Regions from separate parts of the Homo sapiens genome. Here region 2 is linked to region 1. The links come from fine-mapping of genetic effects on gene expression. A gene starts in region 1. The other region holds a variant in brackets. All regions are shown on one strand. Distances are from middle to middle. Region 1 holds the start of EIF4G3 (eukaryotic translation initiation factor 4 gamma 3). Region 2 overlaps EIF4G3 (eukaryotic translation initiation factor 4 gamma 3).

Region 1 (4,000 bases):
TCCCAGCTACTTGGGAGACTGAGGCAGGAGAATGGCGTGAACCCAGGAGGCAGAACTTGCAGCGAGCCAAGATTGCGCCACTGCACTCCAGCCTGGGCGACAGAACGAGACTGTCTCAAAAAAAAAAATAAATAAATAAAAAAATCAGGTGTTACAAATCCAGACAGTTTAAGATGCCACAGTATGAAGTAGCTGCTGTCTTCCAGTCTGGAGATGGGGATGAGGCATCCTTTTCAATGTCAGAAACTGTGGAGCTCTAGCTAGAAAGACGCCGTAGGGGGGTTGTGGTATCACTCTCTTTCAGATGCTCTTTTATCCTAGAAGGAGCATTTGGGGCTCCCAGGGATTGTCACGAATTAAGCATCCACTATGTGTAGAGCTTTATATGAATTAAAAACAACAATAGGCCAGGCGCGGTGGCTCACGCCTGTAATCCCAGCACTTTGGGAGGCCGAGGCAGGCAGATCACCTGAGGTTGGGAGTTTGAGACCAGACTGACCAACATGGAGAATCACCGTCTCTACTAAAAGTACAAAATTAGCCAGGCGTGGTAGCGCATGCCTCTAATCCCAGCTACTCGGGAGGCTGAGGCAAGAGAATCGCTTGAACATGGGAGGCGGAGGTTTCCGTGAGCCGAGATCGTGCCATTGCACTCCAGCCTGGGCAACAAGAGCGAAACTCCGTCTCAAAAAACAGCAACAACAAAATAGTAAGGCAGTGTGTGAAGCAGGATAGCAGGAGTCAGAACTAGACTCTAATCTTAGCTCTGCCAGCCACACTGTCGGTGCGACCTCGGGGAAGTCTTTTGTGCGTTTTGAGCCTCAATTTTCTCAGCTTTTCTGTGGTTTGATGGTATTGAGCCTCCCCAGTCTCAGTTTATTCATTTGTAAAATGGATACTACCTATTTCACAGGACTGCTTGAGATAATGAAGGGTACAGCGCTTAGTGCCATGTCTGGTAAATATTATATTAAAACTTGATTGCTCCATGACGCCTGCCATTTTTTTTTTTTTTTTGAGACGAAGCCTCACTCTGTCGCGCCCAGGCTAGTGTGCAATGGCACTCTCTCAGCTCACTGCAACCTCCGCCTCCTGGGTTCAAGTGATTCTCCCGCCTCAGCCTCCCGAGTAGCTGGTGCCTGCCACCACGCCTGGCTAATTTTTGTATTTTTAGTAGAGACGAGGTTTCATCATGTTGGCAAGGCTGGTCTTGAACTCCTGACCTCAAGTGATCCACCGGCCTTGGCCTCCCAAAGTGCTGGGATTACAGGCGTGAGCCACCGCGCCCGGCCGATGCCTGCCATTCTTTCCCACTCAATGCCACTGTGCTTAGGACAAGGCACCTGCTAAGGAGTGGGGTGTGCGGGGTTGGGGGTGGGAGTGATCTTGGCAGGTCTAGCTGGGAAGAAAATCCTTATCAACAAATGTCACCCAGCATAGGACATTGGGGAGCTGATCACTGGCTGCTGGTCAAAGGGCGCTCCAGTCCTGGGGAAGGCCTAGGTTTGAATCCATCCACAGAGCTCAGTTAAGGCTGCTGATTAGATATGGCGGCTCAGGTCATGTCCCCAGCCAATATGGGAGGCGGCAAGGTTCATCCAGATGAAGGTGGCATTTAGATTTAGGCTCTGTCCTTTCCCGATAGGGTGACCTTGGGCTAGTCACTTTTCCTCTGTGTCCTCTGGAAATGGGGCTCCTCATTCACCTCTCAGAGCGTCTGAGGAAGTGTCGACACAATGGGTGTGAAATGCGTGGGTTACAGGCCGGCGGGTGGCATTGGTTACGCGAAGTCCCCGCGGGGGGTCCCTATCCAACGGGTTCCATTCCGGTTAAGCGGTTCCTTCTCCAGGGGTTTTTCGCCTCGCCGCTGCCTCTCCGCCCCTGCGAGCGGGGCTCAGCGAACAGCCGACTCCGGGGCCATTACCATTGTTCTTCGAGGCTGGGCCGCAGGGGAGGACTCTCGCAAGCCAGACCTCGCCTTTGGTCTTTCCCTCCGCCCCGCACCCGCGCCGCTGTAAGCCAGCGAAGCCTCCCTCGCCGATCTTTGCCGAGGAAGCGAGTTAGCCCCTGAGCCCTCCCGAACGGCGGCCGAGGACGCACCCGAGCGTCTCCGAAGAATCCCGACCCCTAGCAGTCTCCGGAAAGAGCCGAAGAGGCTTCCCACCCTCGGTTTCCCGAGCCATTCCGAAAAAGTCCGAAGTTTTCCGAGCAGCCGTCCTGCCGGACTGCTGGAGGCGGCCACAGCGCCATGTTGGATGCTCTGCTCGTTGAGTGAAGAAAATCCACCGGCATCGCCTGAGCCCCGCTACCGAGAAGGGCGCCGCTTCCTCCGGGGAGGGGGATAAAGATCCCCCGCCGCCGGCCCATGAGGATATTGCCGTGAAAGGTCCGGTCTCTCCGCCTCCTGCCCCCGCCGGGTCCGGCCCCCCCCCTGGGGTCGCGTTGTCACGGAGACCGGCAGCCGGTGGTGCTGGCCCGCGGGGCGGCTGCTGCTGCCGGCGGCGGCGGCGGCGGAGGCGGCGGCGGCGGCGGCGGCGGCGTCGGGCGTGTGTGACCGGCCCCGGCCCCCTCCTCCTCCTCCCCCCAGGCTCCCCCCAGCCCCCCGCTCCCGCCGCCTCCCCGGGTCTGCCCCCATCCCGCCCCCCCGCTGCCCCCGGCCCCTGCACCCCGGCGCGCCCGGTCCCGCTCTGGGGGGGTTGGTGGCTTCGCTTTGCCATGAGTTTACCGCAGAAACCGGCTCTGAAATCAGGCACAGCGACTGCAGCAGGAACCGGACCCGGCACCGGAGCGGCGGCGGCGGCGGCAGCAGCGGTACCGCCTCCTCACCCGGCGGCGGCAGCAGCGGCGGCGGCGGCGGCGGCGGCGGCGGCGGCGGCAGCGGTCCCCCCTCCTCACCCGAACATCAGGGCCCTCCAGACTCAGGCGCCCCAACAGTATCCTTTTCACCTTCCTGTCGGCCCTTCGGTTCTCGTCGTCGCAGTCCAGGGGGACCCCGCAGCCCAGGGGACCCTCCTGCCGGCCGCCACAGCCCAGCCAGGAAAGGGACAGCGGCTCAAGCCCCTGCATCGGGCTTGGGCGGAGCTTTTGGGGTGCCCCGGCAGCAGCACTGCGGGGGGACCCCCAGACCCTCTGCAATACTGTGAAAGCTAGCCCCACTTGGCCATGCTTCTGCAGCCCCTTCCTTTTAGAGCTTGGGGTCCCTTCTCCCCTCCTCCCCTAAGGTACCCTCCCCCCCTTTATTGGGCAGAATTTGCTTGGTGCCTGGGACCAACCCTGCAGGGAAGGCTTTTCTCTGGTTGTTGTGAGGATTACACCCTCCTGCTCTTCACCTCCCCTCGGCTCCCCCTACAGCGGGACACAGTGGGCTTCCATAATTATTATTAGTACATAATAAACTTTATCGGTAAATTTCTTGTTTGAAACCAATCAGCTCGTTTCCGAGGTATGTTGGATTTTCAGTCTAAGGTGAAAATGTACAGAAAGCAGTTCCTCTGGATAATTTTTTTTAGTAATGGGAGAGTTGTGATGTGGTTTGTGGTAGAGATCTGAGGAGGAAATGTGACGCCGGACGCTTCCCTGTCTTTGACCTTTTTAAAGGAAGAGGAAGTTCACCGACATTACCCATCACCCACAAAAGTCTCACTTCTTGGAAGATTTGTGTTAGGCTGAATATTTTTAATGGGCTTTAATTTACTCCTCATAGGCCTGATGTCTAGAGAGTTACCAGGGCTTCTGGAGGAAAGTCTAGTATTGAATGTTTCTAATTTCATGTTATTTGCTCGATTGTAGAATTTTGGAGAGCTTTGATTGAAAAGACTTGGTGATGGGGTATTTTAGTCAAAAACTAGCCGGTGAAGGTAAAACGTTGAATTCATGTATTCCACGGAGATTTAGAAAGGTATTGCGTACCTGAGAATAACATTTCATCATGCATCACCTCCTCCCTACACCCACTGTATTTGTGTAAATCAATAAATAATGATTGGATGTTAGATGTGTT
Region 2 (4,106 bases), 110 kb after region 1:
AATTTTAAATTTTATTTAATTTTCATTAATTTAAATGTGAATAGCTGCAAGGGCGTTTGAAAATGCCCTTCTAGAGGCTGACAAAATCTAGGTCATGTAATTTTGTAAGATTTTGATAAAGTATTTGGGTTTTATCTGATGTATAGAAGGAGCTGTTGAAGAGTTTCTACTAAGGGAATGACATAATATTTAAATCATGAAAATACTCATATTTATTAGCAGATGAATTGGAGTTTATAGGTTACATGGGGAGCAGAATGTTAAGAGCAGCTAAGTGGCTCTGGAATCTGACCAAATGAATTCAGATCCTGGCGCTTCCACTAGCAGCTGTGTGTGTCATTGGGTAAGTTTCTTGCACCTCAGTTTCCTTCCTCATGAGTAAAATGGAGATAATAATAGTGCTGATCTCCAAAGGTTCTTAAGAAGGTTAAATGAGACAAATCCATTTAAACCTCCTAGAGCTTGATACACAGTCATCACTCAGATATGTACCAGCAGCTGCTGCCACCATCAGTAAGTATTCTATTCTTACAACTACAATGAAGAAACTATTCATACCGTTTATTTGATATGAAATCTGAACAAGCTTAGTGTGGTGTTAGATAAAACGCTTATGACTTTCATTTCAATAGTGTTGCTTTTTTATTTTTAAAAAATATTAAAGGCTAGGCGTGGTGGCTCACGCCTGTAATCCCAGCACTTTGGGATACTGAGGCGGGCGGGTCACGAGGTCAGGAGATCGAGACCATCCTGGCTAACACAGTGAAACCCCGTCTCTACTAAAATACAAACAATTAGCCGGGCGTGGTGGCAGGTACCTGTAGTCCCAGCTGCTCAGGAGGCTGAGGCAGGAGAATGGCGTGAACCTGGGAGGCAGCACTTGCAGTGAGCCGAGATAGCACCACTGCACTCCAGCCTTGGCGACAGAGTGAGACTCCATCTCAAAATAAATAAATAAATAAATAAAATAAAAAAATTAAATGTCTTTTTCTGTATAGACATGGGATCTCCCTATGTTGCCCACACTGGCGTCAAACTCCTGGGCTCAAGGAATCCTTGTACCTTGGCCTCCCAAAGTGTTGGGATTACCGGCATGAGCCACTGCACCCAGCCAGTGGTGTTGCTTTTCAAACTTTAGTATTTATCATCAATACTTATTATATATTTGTCATCTTGGAATGTCCAACTTTATTACCTTAGAAAAGTAAACTCCTTTAATAAACTACTAGATGTACATGATACAAAACTTAGGAAGTTAAGGGATAAAAGACTTGTAGTATAATTATCCATGTGTTAAATATATTTTCTCTTTTGACTTAACCGTTGCCATATTATTAGACCCATTGTTCATTTTTAATAATCCCATAGGAAGTTGTTTGTAGAAATAATATAATTTTAATAGTGTTGCCTAGGTGTAGTTGTAGATTATTGTCACTTTATGTTTAAAAGCTACTTCTCTCTCTCTGTCTTTAACTTATTTGGGAAAATAGCATTTGGGAAGTAGCTGTTTAAGTGCTTTTCTTCTTCTTTTTTTTTCCTCTCTCTCTTTTTTTTTTTTTGAGACGGAGCCTCGCTCTGTCACCTAGGCTGGAGTGCAGTGGCGCAATCTTGACTCACTGCAATCTCCGCCTCCTGGGTTCAAGCGATTCTCCTGCCTCAGCCTCCTGAGTAGCTGGGATTACAGGCTCGCACCACCATGCCTGGCTAATTTTTGTATTTTGGTCAAGCTGGTCTTCAA[T/C]GCCTGACCTCGTGATCCACCTTCCTTGGCTTCCCAAAGTGCTGGGATCACAGGCGTGAGCCACCGTGCCCGGCCGTGTAAGTGCTTTTCAAATGCCAGTTTTTGCAGATGGTAGTAGTGGATACAGTTTTTATTTATGGAACCTTCTGTGGAGTGTCAGGACTGCACTGGAGGATTACATGGAGTGGATGTGTTTCTCTTTGGTTTTTTGGAGACAGGTTCTCACCCTGTTGTCCAGGCTGGAGCATGGTAGCATGATCATAGTTCACTGTAATTAACTTTGAACTCCTGGGCTCAAGCAATCTTCCTGCCTCAGCCTCCCAAGTAGCTGGGACTACAGGTGCATGTCGTCATGCCCGGCTAATTTTGTTTTGTTTCATTTTCTGTAGTGACAGGATCTCACTATGTTGCCCAGGCTGGTCTAGAACTCCTGGCCTCAGATGATCCTCCTGCCTTAGCCTTTCAAGGTTTTGAGATTACAGGCACGAGCCATGCCACCTGGCTAACATGTTTCTTATATTAGATCAATCATTTATTTTGGCTACTAAAGCTAATGTGAATTTTCAATTTATTCTTTATATCTGATATGAATTGCATTAGCTAATGTTGAAAATCAGTCATTTGCACTGAAGAACCTATTGTATGCAGGGTATGAGGGGGTGGTAGCGGTTGTACCTACTCTCAAGAAATGGAATGAAATATAATAAAATGAACTTACTAGACAACAATATCAATTAGTCCACTTTCAAGTTCTTTGGAAGTTTCTTTTTACACTTACAAAAAGATTCAGTCTATTATTACTAGTTAAGAATTATTATTGTGCTGTCAAGAATGTTTATGGAATGTCAGTTTACCTTTGATATTCTAAAACTGCCCTCTCTTCAGTTTTTGGGTGGTTCCAATTTATATTAATTGACATATCTGAAACTTAGCAAAAAGAAGGTAGTTTGTTTTTTATTTTATGTTTGCACATACATGTTTGGCTCTTAAAATGTTAGTAGGTTATATAGTTCTTTTCATTAAGGAGTTTTAAAAAATTAATAGTTAAGAAGAATGTAGTTATATCTACACCATGAAGTACTACTTAAACATTTAGAACAAGAATGAAGTAGGTATGTTTATTGACTTGGAAAGATCTCTAATGTTTTGATAAGTGGAGAGGAAAACATGTCATTGAATATTTATTATTGTGTTGTTGCTATTATTTTTACACATTTGTAAGTGTATAGAAAGGTTTGTAATAATGTGCTTCAGAGTATTAATCATTTTGCCATAGGGAGTGGAGTGGGATTTGAAGGGTAAAGAGGGCACTACTTTTTCTTTTTTTTAACAAAAATCATGTTTATACATTATTGTAGCAATTAGAGAAAGTAAGCATCAAACTTTTTTTTTCCACAGTCTTAGTTGCCACTGCCTGATATGCAAATTGGTAATAATTCTATCCTGATTCAATCACTAGATGCAAATGGTTTTCCACAGTGGCCTTAAAATTTTCCTAGATTATTGAAAAATAATATTGTATTAGCAGTAATAAGTTGTGGCTTGCCGTTTTCCTTTGTGGTCTTAAATTTATTTTTCCAAAATTTTAATATAGGACAGTTAGCTGAGTTCAAGTCTTGCATTACTTTGAAAGATCATCTTTGACTGAATTCTATAATGATTTATAAGATAACCATGATTGAGTATATTTCATTTCTCTATTCTTCCTGTGCTCACCTTTTACGTAAAACAACAAAAAAAATCTCATTCTTACCCATGATTAGCTCATCCTCTTTTCTTTCGACAAACCTCACAGTCAGTGTCATCAAATATTTGTGAAATCCAGATGCTGCTGCTGCTTTCCTACCCCCTCCTCTCCCCCGGTAAAAATTCCTACGAGTTAGACTCAGTCTTTTTTCTGTTTGGCCTTTCTTTCTAAATAGAGAACAGCCTTTCCTGTTGTGACAGCCTAAAATGTGTTTGAAGTTACTTTTCTGTGTTTTCCTAAGTACAAAATAACTGAAAGATCCTCTGGCCTCTTGGAGCTTGCTTTTCCAGGGGACTAAACATTGGAGATGTTGCAGAGCTTTTAAGAATATTGAGATAAACTTAATTTAGAAAACATATATTGAATGAGAGCTATATGCAAGGTTTTGTGCCTGGTAATGTGAGAAAGCAGTGGTGGACACTATGATCCTTGTCTTTAAGAGTGCTCATTTTACCAGGCAAGATGGTGATACGTTGTTTTAAGTACATGTGGGAATGTGAGGAAGAGACATTAATGATTATGTAAATGAGAACAAAAATATGTAAATAAGTAGTAACATTTACTGGTATAGTTTTTCTGGGTTCTCATTAAGCAAAAGTACTTGGAGGAGTGAAGCATGGT

What was found. PIP is the estimated chance that this variant, and not a neighbour inherited with it, causes the effect. A credible set is the group of variants that fine-mapping cannot tell apart.
Region 2: its variant is the best candidate, but not a certain one, in a credible set for the expression of EIF4G3 in whole blood (INTERVAL, PIP 0.51).

What each region holds. Positions count from the first base shown.
Region 1 is chr1:21,175,108-21,179,107 of GRCh38, reverse strand. EIF4G3 (eukaryotic translation initiation factor 4 gamma 3) reads left to right here and starts at 2,211. Exons shown (of 37, transcript NM_001391906.1): 1 at 2,211-2,386; 2 at 2,750-2,933. RefSeq lists an enhancer at 2,247-2,296.
Region 2 is chr1:21,069,259-21,073,364 of GRCh38, reverse strand. The region is part of intron 3 of EIF4G3 (eukaryotic translation initiation factor 4 gamma 3); the gene reads left to right. Among named protein-coding and RNA genes, the nearest start is that of MIR1256, 83 kb to the right of the region's middle. The variant T/C (reference allele first, on the strand shown) is at 1,739.